Linked DNA regions of Homo sapiens. The protein of the gene in region 1 interacts with the protein of each later gene in a pairwise test. Each region holds a gene or a part of one and is shown on either strand. Other genes may lie near its edges.

Region 1 (8,583 bases):
TTCTGGCTGGCCATGGTGGCTTATGCCTGTAATCCCAGCACTTGGACAAGCCAAGGTGGGGAGATGATTGCTTCAGCCCAGGAGTTTGAGACTAGTCTAAGCAAAATAGGGAAACCCTGTCTCTACCAAAAAAAAAAAAAAAAAAAATTTGCCGTGAGTGGTGGCACCCACCTGTGTTCCCAGCTACTTGGAAGGCTAAAGTGGGAAGATCACTTGGGTCTGGGAGGTTGAGGCTGCAATGAGTAATGACTGTGCCACTGTACTCCAGCCTGGGCAACACAACAAGACCCCGTCTTTATCTCTTATACAGAAATGCACAGGAAGTTTGTCTGGCACTCTCCACAGGGCAATTGGTTGTTGCCCTGGGATAGTGACCATTCATGCATTTATTCACCAACTGATTTCGGAATTGCTATTTACCTATGTATTAGTGCACAAGTTCTTTCAATTCTCCTTTGAGCCAGTTCCAGTATCTTACTGATTCTCATATTGAGTTAGAGAAAATCTTTGGGCTGGGCGCAGTGGCTCATGCCTGTACTCCCAGCACTTTGGGAGACTGAGGCGGGTGGAACACCTGACGTCAGGAGTTCAAGACCAGCCTGGCCAACAGGGTGAAAACCCGTCTCTACTAGAAACACAAAAATTAGCCGGGCGTGGTGGTGCACGCCTGTAATCCCAGCTACTCGGGAGGCTGAGGTGGAAGAATCGCTTTAACCCAGGAAGCAGAGGTTGCACTGAGCTGAGATCACTCCATTGTACTCTGGCCTGGGCAACGAAAGAGAAACTCCGTATCAAAAAAGAAAAAAAGAAACAAGAAAAAATATTTGATGTGTATTTTAATACCTGCAGAAGAGACATAATTTTACCTTTAAAAAAGTACCTCTTAGCAGCACGTATTTCATAACGAAGAAAGGATAGCTGTTTTCAGATCTGCTAATTCTGCAAGCACAATCCACATCGTCTTAAGCATTCATGAGGTAGTTACAAAAACAAACACAAATGTAATGGAAAAATCTCAGTACATTAAAAAAATAGAGTAGAAACCTTTCTGGTCATTCAATTTTATCTTAATACAATGAACTGAAAAATAAATGAGAACATAACAGGCTGCTCAAATAATAGGTTGAAAATACTACACATTAACATCTGTGATTGCTATGGGAACGCCAACAGTAATTTTTTTTTTTTTTTCTGAGATGGAGACTCACTCTTGTTGCCCAGGCTGGAGTGCAGTGGGGCAGTCTCGGCTCACTGCAACCTCCACCTCCCGGGTTCAAGTCATTCTCCTGCCTCACTCTCCCAAGTAGCTGGGATTACACACAACTGCCACCACGCCCAGCTAATTTTTGTATTTTTAGTAGAGACGGGGTTTCACCATGTTGGCCAGGCTTGTCTTGAATTCCTGACCTTGTGATCTATCTGCCTCGGCCTCCCAAAGTGCTGGGATTACAGGTGTGAGCCACCGCACCCAGCAGTAACCTTTTTTTTTTTTTTTTTTTTTTTTTTTTTTTTTGAGACAGAGATTTGCTCTTGTTGTCCAGGCTGGAGTGCAATGGCGCAGTCTCTACTCACTGCAACCTCCACCTCCCGGGTTCAAGTGATTCTCCTGCCTCAGCCTCCCAAGTAGCTGGGATTACAGGCGCCTGCCACCACGCTCGGCTAATTTTTGTATTTTTAGTACAGACAGGGTTTCACCATGTTGGCCACGCTGGTCTCAAACTCCTGACCTCAGGTGATCTGCCCGCCCCGGCCTCCCAAAGTACTGGGATAACAGGCGTGAGCCACTGCACCCAGCCCCCATCAAAAGTAAATTTTAAAAATGTCAACATTATCAAAAAAACCATTCCATTTCACATATGAAAAAGAACAGCAAAAACAACAAACCTAAAGTTATAAGAGGGAGGAAATAATAATGATAGGAGCTATAAATAAATAAGAAAACATGTCATGAAATTTAAATAAATGTGCCAGGAGCTTGTTATTTGAAACAGCTAATTAAAACAGGCAAAACTGTCAAATACAAGGTTTTAAAATGTAGAAAAATGGGAGAAACTTAAGATGTGAGCTACAGCAGCACATTTTATTTTTTTATTTTTGAGAGACAGGGTTTCTCTTGTCACCCAGGTTGGGTTGCAGCGGCATGCTGTGCCTCACTGCAGCCTCGACTTCCCAGGCTCCAGAGATCCTCTCACCTCAGCCTCCCAAGAAGGTGGGAACTACAGACACATCCCACCATGCTCGGCTAATTTTGTTTTGTTTTGTTTTTGGTAGAAACGGGGTCCCACTATGTTGCCCAGGGTGGTCTTGAACTTCTGGGCTCAAGCGATCCTCCCGCCTCGGCCTCCCAAAGTGCTGGAATTACAGGCGTGAGCCACCGTGAGCGGCAGCAGATCTTTTATTGAACTTAATGTGCATTAAGTGCCTGCGTGTGTCAAACAATGTTTTAGATTTTTAAAAATAATCATAAAACATTCCATGCATGACTGATTGTAAAAACGACTATGCCCAGGGCAGTTTTGTTTAAAAATATTCCGCCGGGCGCGGTGGCTCACGCCTGTAATCCCAGCACTTTGGGAGGCCGAGGAGGACAGATCACGAGGTCAGGAGATGGAGACCATCCTGGCTAACACGATGAAACCCCGTCTCTACTAAAAATACAAAAAATTAGCCAGGCGTAGTAGCGGGCGCCTGTAGTCCCAGCTACTCGGGAGGCTGAAGCAGGAGAATGGCGTGAACCCGGGAGGCGGAGCTGGCAGTGAGCTGGGACTGTGCCACTGCACTCCAGCCTGGATGACAGAGCGAGACTCCGTCAAAAAAAAAAAAAAAAAAACCACCATATATATATATGTATTTTACAATGGACAAGTGAAAAAGTTGACTAAAAGTAGAGATGACCTTAAAATAACTATGAAAATCATCCCCTCCCCTGTTTAACACTGAGACCCAAGCGTTATGGATAAATTCTATTTTTACGTAGAAAAATGATGCTATGTTAGAGAAGCTGATTCATACACAGAACACATTCAAAACCACTTCACAAAATCATTCCCAAGCTATCATCCGATCTCCACTCCCAATGGAGACAGAGATAAAATTCTTGGCTCATGACAAGGACTCAGTAATGTGATAAAAGAATAATATACCAATTAGGGTTTATCACAGGGAGCGAAGGATTGTTCAATTTGAGACAATCTAAAAATAGCATCCACCCCATCAATAGCTTAGGGGAAAAAAATCATATGATCATTTAAAAATACCAAAAGGCATTTGAAAAAATTCACCACCACCCTCCTAAGACAAAATGGAAAAAAGGGAATGCAAAAATATTTCTCCAACATGCTGACAAGGATTCTAAAATAAGAGCTGGTATTAATATGATAATCAGCAGAGAAGTACTAGAGATGCACTCGAAAATCAGGAGCCAAACAAGCATGCCTGGCCGTGCCCCACCACGACGTTTTAGAACATGAGAGAAATGCCACAGGATAGACAGGGAAGCAAGAGGGGCACGTGTTAGAATGCAGAGACAACGGCACTCTTAATAACTGATGCTGCGGCTTGACGAAAGCAAACAGCACATACAAGAAAAGCATTCAAAACAACAACCGACAAGCTGCATTTCTACAAACAAAAACCACTTAGGAAATACGCAAGCAAAAGAAATGCCAATCACATCACACCTGTAATCCCAGCACTTTGGGAGGCCGAGGTGGGCGGATCACCTCAAGTCAGGACTTTGAGACCAGCCTGGCCAACATGGTGAAACCCCGTCTCTACTAAAACTACAAAAATTACCCAGGAGTGGTGGTGGGCGCCTGTAGTCCCAGCTACTCGGGAGGCTGAGGCAGGAGAATCACTCAAACCCAGGAGGCAGAGGTTGCAGTGAGGCGACATTGTATCACTGCACTCCAGCCTGGACAAGAGTGAGACTCTGTCTCAAAAAAAAAGAAAAAGAAAAAGAAAAAGAAAACAAAAAAAAAGGAAATGCCAATCACGGATGCAACAACCTATCATCACCACGACTGCCACAAAAAAACCACCAAAGACCACCCCTGACATCATACGCACATGACTTCCAAGAGCAAGATCTCTAAAACCGGTCTAACTTGTATCAGTAGACACTGATGGAGAACTCTCTTATGTTCCTGAAAAGTCTGACTGAAGACCAAGACGCAACCATGGATGTTACGAATGCCTCACAGCATGGCTAGGACGTGGGCCCCTTCTAAGGTGAGAAAACCGAGGCTCAAGGAGGTGGTTTCCATTTCCCAGGGTCATCTGTGAGCACATGGTGACCTCACACAGCCTGTTTGGAGCAGAGCTGGCATTGCCACCCTTGTCTGGGTGACTCGGAAGCCTGGGATCTTCCCATGCTACCTTCTAATCCACCGCCTATACCTTGATACTTGGGGATATCAAACGATATTCTACAAAGATTAATACTTGAAGGGAGCAGGTCTTACATGGTATTAAAATATACTCTAAAACAGCAAGACTCAAAACAGCATGATACTGGGACAGAAATGGAAATGTGGAATCGTGGAGGCCCAGAATGAGGCCCAACTATTGTTAGATATATGGCAAAACAGAGACTGTCTAATACATGGCGGTCACTAACTGAGAAGCATGGGAAAATTGCACAGAATGGGTTTTAATATCTGGCTGAGCGTACAGTAGGAGCGTATTGATACAAACCAGCAGGTGCCTTTGCTCCGAGCTTGGTCCTGCATGCTCAATAGCTCAGAGGCCTTACTTGGCTCAATCTCTGAAGGACTTCGTAATTCATAAGGTGGATGTCTCCATTTCACAGATGGAAAAACTGAGGCTCAGAAAGGGAAATAACCAGCTCAGATCCCTCAGCCAGGTCTGGCTGGCTTTATCAGCTAAGTTCCCCGGCCTCAACCGGCAGACAAGGCTGGGCTTTTCTGGACTCCCAAAGCTCAGGGTGCTGGTGGCTGCTGCCTCGAGCACCTGTGGGTCCCTCACCCTTGCATGCTCCCAGTTCCCTCACCGTGGGCCTGGACCAGTGTGCCCTATGGCTGCTCTCTGCTCCTGGATGACTGACTCTCCAGTTGCCTCCTGGGTGTGCCTGGAGTCTCATGCTACACTCCCATGCCTATTGCCAGGTCCCTGACTCAGTTTCCCCACTCATCCCAGCCAGCAGCTATGGCTGTCTGGCTGTGACTCTGTTGAGTTCACCTTTGTGAGCCTCTGTTTCCATAGCTGTGAGATAGTGGAGGTGACAGCAACCACCCATAGGGTTGCTGTGAGGATTAAACCAGGTGCTGAGCATCGAGAACCTGATATGGGACAGGGTTCAGATGCATGAACCACCACCCCCCACCACGCCCCACCCCGCCCCCTCTTCCAGTCTTGTAAGCCCACCCTGAAGGGTACGACACCTGTCTGGGGACCCCTTAAGGGCACAGGGTGATTGCGGCCACCCTTTCTAAGGCCCCAGCCCAGGATCAGGCCTGATTCCGGGAAAATGCCTCCTGCTCCCAACCAGAGCCATTCACCAAACCATTCTATTCCCTTCCCAGTTCATCTCAGCTGCTTCAAAGAGGCCCAGGCAAAGCCCACCCCTGAGATAGGCCTCCCTGGCGGCCTGTCTTCAAAAATCCAGGCATCCTTAGGCAAGGGTGGAACTGAAGCAGCACTGGAGCCCTGGACCCCGGGGGCCACCTACACCCACTGACCTTCTTGGTATAACCCATGGCCTTCAGGACAGAGTGATTCAAGGTCTCCAGGGAGGCCAGGACATCCTCATAGTCACCCATGTGGTCCACAAAGTAATCTGGGGAAGGAAAGGCAAAGGTCAGGGGTCACAGGTCCTGCCCCTCCCACTCAGCACTCCTGCACCTCCCACCTGCGCTACCTCCAGCCTCCCCTGCCTCAGGCCCTTCTCATCCAGCCCCATCCCAGCATCCCCATCTTGGTCCCAGCATAGCCAGGCACCTACCACACAGCTCCTTGGTGTCCACATGGCTGCAGAGACAGACAGAGGCAGAGACAGACAGAGACAGAGAGGGGGTTAGCAGGCCTGACCCTGCACAGCCTGCGAAACACACATCCTGCCTGCTCTTTGCAGCCTGTGTGCTGGCCCCACAAGCTCCGCCTTACAGAAGAGGGTGCAGCAGGTAGGTGACACCCCCGCCCCTGAAGGCCCACGTCTGTCTGATCCCCCACACCACCCACCCTTGTTCTGTTTTCTCGGAGTCTGCTGACCCCATCATGAATAAATGACACCAAGGGGAGGGCCAAGCTGGGGGCCAGGAAAGGGGTAAAGGGACAGAGAGTGGGGACCCATTACTGTGACGGGCTGTCAGCAAAGCTCTCATCTGACCCACTGACCCACCCCCAGTCGACCCTGCCTGCTGGGTCCTGGAGTTCCTGGGGTTGTGGCAGAGCCCTTCCTGTTCTGGTCGCAGCCCCTGGGTCCCATATCCCCATTCCTACAGCCTGGAGAAGGGTCCTGTCCTTTCTTGGGGGAGCAGGCTGAGCATGAGCCTATCCCCCATGGCAGTGAAGGAGCACAGACCGGCCCCAAGATAAGGGGTGCAGTGCTGGGAACTATGGTGGTTCTGCAGCTTAGGAGCAGATTTGATAAGCTGAGGCCCTCTGGGACTGGCTAGAGATGGTCTGGATAAGGAGCTACTGCCAAGTCAATGTGCAAGGGACCCAATACGGTGGTGGCCCTTTCTGGGCCTAGGTCCCTCATCGTGCTCAGTGGAGCCCAGGCTCAGCAAAGCACATCTGGACAGAAGGCTTCTGTGGCCCAGTGAATCTGCACTCGGGGGCTCTGCATGCTCTGTCAGGAGGTGCCTCCAACCTCCATCTCATATTCAGAGTTCTGGCAAGTCCTGCAGAAAGCGACCCTGTCATTCTGCTTTAATTCATGTTTCACAAAACTTTTTGATGGTTTGTACACTGTTTTGGGCACAAAGTCTATTTAGCATCCCAAGGGGCTAATGTTCGTGGCTCACACCTTAGGTAATGTTGGGGAGATTAATCCTAAAAGTCTTTATAGAGCTTTGACCTTCCATAACCGCGAGTCCTCCCTGCACCCCCACCCACCCACACGTACTCTCACAGTTCGACTCTCAAACCAGTGCCTCCTCCTCCCTCCGCCTCCACCCCCTCCTCTACCCCGCTGGTCCTAACACAAAAGGCCCTGAAAGAGAAGGTCTAAATCAATGGGCACCTGCCTGGCCCCTTCAAAGCACCCCAGGAAGCTGCAGTAACAGCTCAGAAATCTCCATCTGGCCCCAGACAGTTCTCCATTCTGCAGTCTGGAGCCTGAAGCCATTTCTTTAAAGTGGCCTTTCCCAGAGGATGGTATCTGCTCCACTTACCATATCCCGGTCCCCAGCCAGTGCCCCCCAGGACTCTCTCAGCCGCAGCCTCTGGTCCAAACCACCACTGTACTCTACCCCTTGCACACTGGTTTGGTGGTAGCTCCTTGTCCAGACCATCTCTAGTCAGTCTCAGAGAACCTCCGCTTACCAAATGTGCCCTAAGCAGCCCTCCAGAAGCTTGGGTCCTCATCACGCGAGTAGGCCTGAGAAAGGAGACCAGGTGGGGCTCTGATCCCTCCTGAAGGTGGGGTTGAGGAGAGGGCTCAGACCTCATCCTGTCTGGGGAATCCCAAGAAAAGGGCAAGATTGGAGGTGAGGCTGGGAAGGGTCAAGGGTAAGTCTGAGTAGAATCTGCATTTTCCACTTGATTTAGAGATGGGTGGAGACAGAGTTTTTGGCTGATTCTGAGATGCAGGTCAGGGTTATGACTGGGTTGGAGAAAAGGTTTAATAAGCTATAATGATAGACGTAGTGTTGAGTTAGGATTCGTGTTTGGTTTAACACAGGAGTCAGTGTTAGGATGACGTTCAACCTCACAGTTAATGTTGGGACTGGGAGGACACACAGGCATTGGGGTTGGGGTGAGAACTGGCTGCTGGCTGAAGATGGCAGAAGGATGAAGTCATTGCCACCTTCCCATTTTCATAATCCCATGTCCACTGTGCAAAACCAGGAGTCTCTCCTTAGTTGGCCATGTGCACTCAGAAGACACACTTGCGATAGTAGCCAATGCAATATGAATCTGCACACGCCCCATTCACCCCAGGCAGTGAAGAGCTGACTTCTGGATTAGCAAATTTGGGGATTTTCAGTTCTCCTGCCCCTTACAGGGGACTAGGAACGGACACTAGATGAAAAGATGCCTCCACCACAGCCCACACACACCCCCACTCTGCCAGCCAGGACTGAAGCTCACTTGGTGTTGTCAGAGTCAATCGTGTGAAAGAGATCCTCCAGTTCTTTCTCATTAAGGACGCCATCTGCAAAGAAGAGCTGGAATTCCTCCAAGGACAGCTTCCCATCATCTGCAAGGAAGGAAGCAGAGAAAGGAGCTGGTGTCTGCAGAGATAAGGCTGGTGGGGCTAGTGCATGCACGGCCCCCAAATCCAGTCAATGGCCTGACTGACAGAACAACTGCAGCTCAGATAATCCCTACCCTCCCAGCTAATCCCCAAACTAAAAGACAAATTCCATTTTAGATAATCCCTACCCACCCAGCTAATTC
Region 2 (7,792 bases), on another chromosome or scaffold:
CTCCTGAGTAGCTGGGATTACAGATGTGCACCACCACGCCCCACTAAGTTTTGTATTTTTAGTAGATACGGGGTTTCACCATGTTGACCAGGCTGGTCTCGAATTCCTGACCTCAGGTGATCCACCCACCTCAGCCTCCCAAAGTGCTAGGATTACAGGCGTAAACCACTGCGTCCAAGACTTTTATATGGCTATAGATAGAGTGAGATGCTATTTATGTAAAATATAAAAGCACATAAAACAATACTATATATTAATCACTCACCTAAAGTGTTGCAGGGTATTTTGGAGTTTGAGGGAAACAGTGACACTGGACATCTATCAGACCCCCACAATCTGTTAGCTGTAGTTTTCACTATAAACCCATACTATAGTCCTTCCTATGATGTCTTATTTGTAAAGGTAGGTTTTTGGAGGTTGCTATAATAAAAAGCAAGTCCCGTATGAAAATCATTGTGGAATAGGAAGTGAGAGTGGTGGTCTCCAATCTGATTCCACGATTTGAGGTGCTGTACGGTGCCTAACAGTGTACATCCAAGTAGTAAAGTGTGGTTGTTTAAGAATAAAATATTATATTTTTCTTTTAGTTTATGTGTATTTTCAAACAGCTAATAACTTAGGACAAATACTAGTTTGAACTTAATTATTTACTAAATGGAACTTAAGTATTCCTTTTGGTCCAGAGGTACTGTGAAAAAAAGTACTGAGACATTAAGGGTGTCACAAAATGAGGAAATCTGGGAACTTTATTCTTTGGCAAGATTATGTTGATTTTATTATTTAGGATACATAAATCAGTAGTAAAAGTAAAATGGGAATGGGAAGAATGAATACATATGGGCTTCAGTACACTGGTTATCTCTGGGGAGGAGGAAAGTTAGATAAAAGGGATCAATAATTTGTAACATTCTGTTTTCTTATTTGCTCCTGATTTTAAAAAACATTACATCTGCATAATTTGTCATATTGAAAAATAGTATAGCATAGCATTTAGAAGTAGTAGTCTAGAATCTCAGCAGCACTGCTTAGCAGCTCTGTGACTTTGGACAAGTGACTTTAACATCTCTTACACTTCAGTTTCCTTATCTGTAAAATAGGGATAATAACAGTACTGACATCATGGGATTTTTGTGAGATTAAGCAAGTTTATATGTGTTTTCTATTATACTATCCTTGTCCTTTTGAAACATTGTATAATTTAAAACATCTTAAAATTACAGTACAACAAAAGAATTTTGAAGATCTCTTGAAATTTATTGTAATTTTATTTGACCAGAATTACATATAACACACTTTTTCCTAGCAGTCATTTGGGGACTTCTTTCCCCCATGTAAAAAGTTTTGTTTTGTTTGCTAGCACAAAACCATGCTAAAATTCACACAGTAAATAAGGTTGAAATAATATATAATTTTTAAGTGGCTACAGCAGTTTATTTGATAAATATAAATATAACTGTTACCATCCAAGTTCATGGTCTACTCGTTTTTATTTCCTTCTTTCTCTTTCTTATGAGATAACAACATTGAAAATTACTCAACGAATGCACTAATTCAGCCAGTTGACACCATCAGCATATCTTCCTTGAGACAATTTGAAACCGTTTGCAAATTTCACTGGGTAGAAGCATTTGATGATGAAATGACAGAGAAGCCAGAATTTCAAAGTCAAGTGTATAATTATGCAAAAGACAACAATATAAAGCAAGACTCATTTAAGGAAGAAAATCCAATGGAAACTAGTGTTTCTGCAAATACAGACCAACTTGGTAACGAGTATTTTAGACAGCCTCCTCCTAGAAGCCCGCCTCTAATCCACTGCAGTGGAGAGATGCTGAAATTTACAGAAAAGTCACTGGCTAAAAGTATTGCCAAGGAATCTGCCCTCAACCCTAGCCAACCTCCAAGCTTCTTATGTAAGGAAAGTGTACACAATAATATTGTAAAACCATTTGATAAAGAGAATAGTTCTAACCTAGTTCATCTGAGAGTTAATTATAAAGCAGAGGAGGTACGATTGTGATGGTCAGTAAAGCCTGTGGAGTATTAAAGGATGCATTTTAAAAATTGTATATATATATATATAATCTGAGACTTTTCCAAGTAGTGTTAAATCACCTAGTTAGCATGAGGGACTTTGCTTCTCTGGGGAAAATGCATTCTGAGATCTTAGCCAATTCAGAAATAAATTTTTCTAGTAAAATCAAGTCCATACTTGAGGATTAGCTCTACCAAATGGTAATTTCTCTAAGGATCAGGACTGTCTTACTCACCCTCTTATGCACCACAGCGTCTATATGTTTCCTTGAATATAATAAGCTTTTTTTACCATAATTTTTTTTCACCACAAACAAGTTTATTAGAGAAGTAAAGAAACAAAAGAATGGCTACTGTGTAGACAGAGCAGTCTGAATATAATAAGCTTTTATATTTGTTGAATCAAAATGGCTGGAAGTAGCAGAGTTTACACTGATGGAAAGGTCAAGAAGAGGAAGGAGTGCAGAGGCACTAATTCATTTTTCAAGAAAAACAAGATTTCTCTGTCATATTGGAATTCTACTGACAAGCAAAAAATACTACTTTTTCTACTAAAGTGAAAATATTAGTTTATCATTTGGTTTATTGATTCCGAGCACACATGTAGTATCCTAAGAGCACTGAAGATACCGACAGTATATATTCTGTGTACTTTCTGAACAAAAAAATTAAAAATACTAGGAATTGGTATGGGAAAATAGATAAAATTCAAGAATAGTATAAGTAATACCTTTTCTCTTTTTTTGTTGTTTTGTTTTGTTTTTGATACGGAGTCTCACTCTGTTGCCCAGGCTGGAGTGCAGTGGCATGATCTTGGCTCACCGCAACCCCTGCTTCCTGGATTCAAGCGATTGTCCTGCTGCAGCCTTCTGAGTAGCTAGGATTATAAGCGTGTGCCACCACACCTGGCTAATTTTTTTTTGTATTTTTAGTAGAGACGGGTTTTCACCATGTTGGCCAGGCTGGTCTTGAACTGCCGATCCACCCGCCTTGGCCTCCCAAAGTGCTGGGATTACAGGTGTGAGCTACCACACCTGGCCAATAATACCTTTCCAATGTGAGTTTGATGGGAAACACTATGACTATAATGTCTTATTTACAAGTATGAGCATTTTCATTTTTTTGAAAGTAGATGACAGCATTTAAAAGGACTTTATTTGTCCAAGTTGATTTCTGGAAAACAACCTTTTAAAAATCAGCTTAAATAGGGTTTCGCAAGATTGTTCTTTCCTCTTTTCATTGCATTTAGCCATTTTTCATTCAGTCAATAGATACTTTTAGGCATCTATTACATGGCAGGTCTGTACTACACATTAGGTGATGGTTAGAAAATAGACAAAAAGATGTAGTTCTTGTCCTCATGAAGACAGCATCCTACTAGAGGAGGTAGTCATTAATCAATCACACAAATAAATGTGAACTTGCAACTATAATAAGATCAATAAGGTGAATAAAGTTACATATAAAGTATATGTAGAGCATGTTATATAAAGTTACTATTTATGCTATGATGCTATATCAAGTTACAGATAAACTTGCAACTATGATAAGTGCTGCATATGTAAGTAGGTTGGGCATCTATGATAAGGACACTACCCTGATCAGGGAGTCTGGGGAAGGCATCCCTGAAGAAATGATCATTGAGCTGAGCTCTAAAGGATGGGTAGAAGTTAATTAGGCAGCCATGGGTAGGAGAGCCTTCCATACAGAAGGAAGAACGTCTGCAAACCCTGTGGCCACAGGAAGCATGGTACCTACTAGGACCTGAAGGAAGCCCTGAGTCCAGGAAGATCAGAGTTGGAGGAAGGAGGAGGGGTACAGCAGATGAAGACAGAGAGGTGGTGTGGGTCAGATACTGCTTTAGTTCATTTCATCTTGCTGCAACTATATCACAGACTGGGCAATTTATAATGAATAACAATTTATCTGGCTCACGGTTCTGGAGGCTAGGTCCATGGTGCCAGCATCACTCGAGGGTCTCTGTGCTGTCATTTCATGGTGGGAGGTGGAGGGGCAAAAGAAGGTGAGATCGAGGGAGCAAGTGGAGGCCAAACTAACTTTTATTTTATTTATTTATTTATTTATTTATTTATTTATTTATTTATTTATTTTGAGATGGAGTCTCGCTCTGTCGCCCAGGCTGCAGTGCAGTGGCACCATCTTGGCTCACTGCAACCTCCGCCTCCCGGGTTCAAGCAATTCTCCTGCTTCACCCTTCCCAGTAGCTGGGATTACAGGTGTGTGCCACCACGCCCAGCTAATTTTTTGTATTTTTAGTAGAGACAGGGTTTCACAGTGTTAGCCAGGATGGTCTCAATCTCCTGACGTTGCGATCCACCTGCCTCGGCTTCCCAAAGTGCTGGGATTACAGGTGTGAGCCACCACTCCCAGCCCCCAAACTCACTTTTGTAACAAATCCACTTGTGATAACTAACACACTCCTGTGATAACAACATTTAGTCATTTTTATTCACCTCTTACTAGGCCCCGTCTTCCAACACTGTTGCACTGGGGATTGGGGATCAAGCTTCCGGCACGTTAACTTTAGGGGATGCATTTAAAGCACAGCAGATATCAAGAGCAAGATATTAGGGCCTTGTAGGTCTCAGTAATGATAGTTATCTTTATCCCAGAACAATGAAAAACCATTAAGATACAAGGTTCTGCAGAAGGATGAGCTCAAAAAACAAAATACAGAAGTCCTTGTCTCTAAATTCCAGAGAATTATACAGCACACCACTACAGATACCTTTTACTGGGTTTTTACTTATTTATTTATTTTAGATACAAGGTGTCTTGCTCTGTTACTCAGATTGGAGAGCAGTGTGATCATGGCCCACAAGAAATCCTCCTGCCTCAGCTTCCCAAGGAGCTAGGACTACAGGCACATGCCACCACACCTGACTGATTTTTAAAATATTTTTTTTGAAGAGATAGGGTATCACTGTGTTACCCAAACTGGTCTCCAACTCCTGGTCTCAAGGAATCCTCTCACCTTGGGCTCCCAAAGTGTTGGGATTACAGGTATGAGCCACTGTGCCTGGCCTGGGTTTTGTTTTTGTTTTTTTTGTTTGTTTGTTTTTTGTTTTTTTGAGACAGAGTCTCGCTCTGTCGCCCAGGCTGGAGTGCAGTGGCGTGATCTCGGCTCACTGTAGCCTCCACCTCCAGGGTTCAAGCAATTCTCCTACCTCAGCCTCCCGAGTAGCTGGGACTACAGGTGCACACCGCCACGCGCAGCTAATTTTTGTATTTTTAGTAGAGATGGGGTTTCACCATGTTGGCCAGGATGGTCTTGATCTCCTGACCTCATGATCCACCCGCCTCAGCCTCCTGAAGTACTGGGATTACAAGCATGAGCCACTGCACCCGGCCCTGGGTTTTTAATGTCATATTCATTTCACCATTTCTTACCACAAATTACTGTCTTTTTTTATTTTTATTTGTTTATTTTATTATTATTATTTTTTGAGACAGAGTCTCGCTCTATCGCCCAGGCTGGAGTGCAGTAGTGTGATCTCAGCTCACTGCAACTTCCACCTCCTGCGTTCAAGTGATTCTGCTGCCTCACTCAGCTTCCCAAGTAGCTGGGATTATAAGCATGTGCTACCATGCCTGGCTAATTTTTGTATTTTGGGCAGAGATGGGGTTTTATCATGTTGGCCAGGCCGGTCTCAAACTCCTGACCTCAGGTGATCCACCCACCTCAGTCTCCCAAAGTGCTGGGATTACAGGCGTGAGCTACCTCGCCCGGCCTACTGTCTTTTTATAACCTCCTCGAGACCTCTATCGGCAGCATAAAGTCAATCATGAGGCATGTTCTTCTGCCATTCTAATGTTCCTGAGAGTCACAGAATAATGAGATAATGGTCTAAATGTGGAATAAAAAATATTCAAAAGAGAAGAGAACTTTCCCCCCTAAAAATCCAAACTTTTGGCCCAGTAATAACATGTAAAAAAAAAAAGAGAGAGAACTTGCAGTCTGTAAGGTAATTGATACATTTATTTGTCTGAATTTATTTGAAGTCAAAGCATCTTATATGTGTTCAGAGAAGTTTGCATAATAGAAAATGGTAAGAGGATGAAAGTTTAATTTTCCTTTTGTCAAAGTAAATGGGATGTATATCTGTCATATACCTACTGCCTGTGCCCTGCTGTGCTGTTAGGTGCTGTACAAACATTTAGCAATTAATACATAGGTATTAACTTTTGTTAATAGGCATTATTATTGGAAGTAGATACTATTGTTACTTTATAGCGGAGAAAGCCAAACAGGGGATCTACTAATAGAATTCAAGGCCAGCCCTATTTGACTTGAAAGCTCATTATCTTTCTACTCGTTCACACTTACTTTGTTTACTATAATTTACAGACTGCAGTTCCTTCAAAAGAAATACAGAATTATGGGGAGATTCCTGAGATGTCAGTCAGTTATGAAAAGGAAGTCACAGCAGAGGGTGTGGAGAGGCCAGAAATTGTCTCAACTTGGTCTTCGGCAGGCATTTCCTGGAGGAGTGAAGCATGTCGGGAGAACTGTGAGATGCCTGACTGGGAGCAAAGTGCTGAAAGCTTACAACCTGTTCAAGAGGACATGGCTTTAAATGAAGTCTTGCAGAAATTAAAACATACTAACAGAAAGCAGGAAGTGCGAATCCAAGAACTCCAGTGTAGTAACCTGTATTTAGAGAAGAGGGTTAAAGAACTACAGATGAAGATTACCAAACAGCAAGTGTTCATTGATGTCATCAATAAGCTAAAGGAGAATGTTGAAGAATTAATTGAAGACAAATACAAAATAATCCTAGAGAAGAATGATACTAAAAAGACATTGCAGAATTTGGAAGAGGTTTTAGCTAACACGCAAAAACATCTTCAGGAATCCAGGAATGACAAGGAAATGTTACAGCTTCAATTTAAGAAGATCAAGGCTAATTATGTGTGTTTACAGGAAAGGTACATGACTGAAATGCAACAAAAAAATAAATCTGTAAGTCAGTATTTAGAGATGGACAAAACCTTAAGCAAGAAAGAAGAAGAGGTAGAGAGACTACAACAACTCAAAAAAGAACTGGAAAAGGCCACAGCTTCTGCTTTGGACTTGTTGAAACGGGAAAAAGAGGCCCAAGAACAAGAGTTCTTGTCTTTACAGGAGGAATTCCAGAAACTTGAAAAGGAAAACCTGGAAGAAAGACAGAAACTGAAATCTAGACTTGAGAAATTGCTCACTCAAGTTAGAAATTTGCAATTTATGTCTGAAAATGAAAGAACGAAGAATATAAAACTTCAGCAGCAAATCAACGAAGTAAAAAATGAGAATGCAAAACTTAAACAGCAGGTTGCAAGGAGTGAAGAGCAAAATTATGTCCCTAAATTTGAGACAGCTCAGTTAAAGGATCAATTAGAGGAAGTCTTGAAGTCAGATATTACCAAGGTATTGATACACATTCTAAATCTCTAATGCGGAATTTCAAGAGTTTCTAGTGGTCTAGTGATGCGTATTTAGACGTGGCACTTATATTTGTTTGCAGAAAGAATTATTAAAGAAAGAAACAGATCTCGGCACTTTGGGAGGCTGAGGCAGGAGGATCTCTTGAGGCTAGGAGTTTGACACCAGCCTAGGCAACATAGTGAGACCCCATCTCTACAAAACATTTTTTAAAGCAGCCAATCTGTCATGCATGGTGGTGTGCGCCTATAGTCCTATCTATTCGGGAGGTTGAGATGGGGGAATTACTTGAGCTCAGGAGTTTGAAGCTGCAGT

The links. Proteins that work in one complex are often made in the same cells at the same time.
Region 2: the proteins of NECAB2 (region 1) and CAGE1 interact in binary tests that used the Homo sapiens proteins (3 or more experiments, as listed by UniProt).

The regions. Positions count from the first base shown.
Region 1 is NC_000016.10:83,978,244-83,986,826, reverse strand, and holds part of NECAB2 (N-terminal EF-hand calcium-binding protein 2), read right to left. Parts: intron 8,384-8,583; coding exon 8,275-8,383; intron 5,989-8,274; coding exon 5,963-5,988; intron 5,798-5,962; coding exon 5,700-5,797; intron 1-5,699. UniProt on the Homo sapiens protein: May act as a signaling scaffold protein that senses intracellular calcium.
Region 2 is NC_000006.12:7,372,743-7,380,534, reverse strand, and holds part of CAGE1 (cancer-associated gene 1 protein), read left to right. Parts: intron 1-1,514; coding exon 1,515-1,918; intron 1,919-6,403; coding exon 6,404-7,462; intron 7,463-7,792.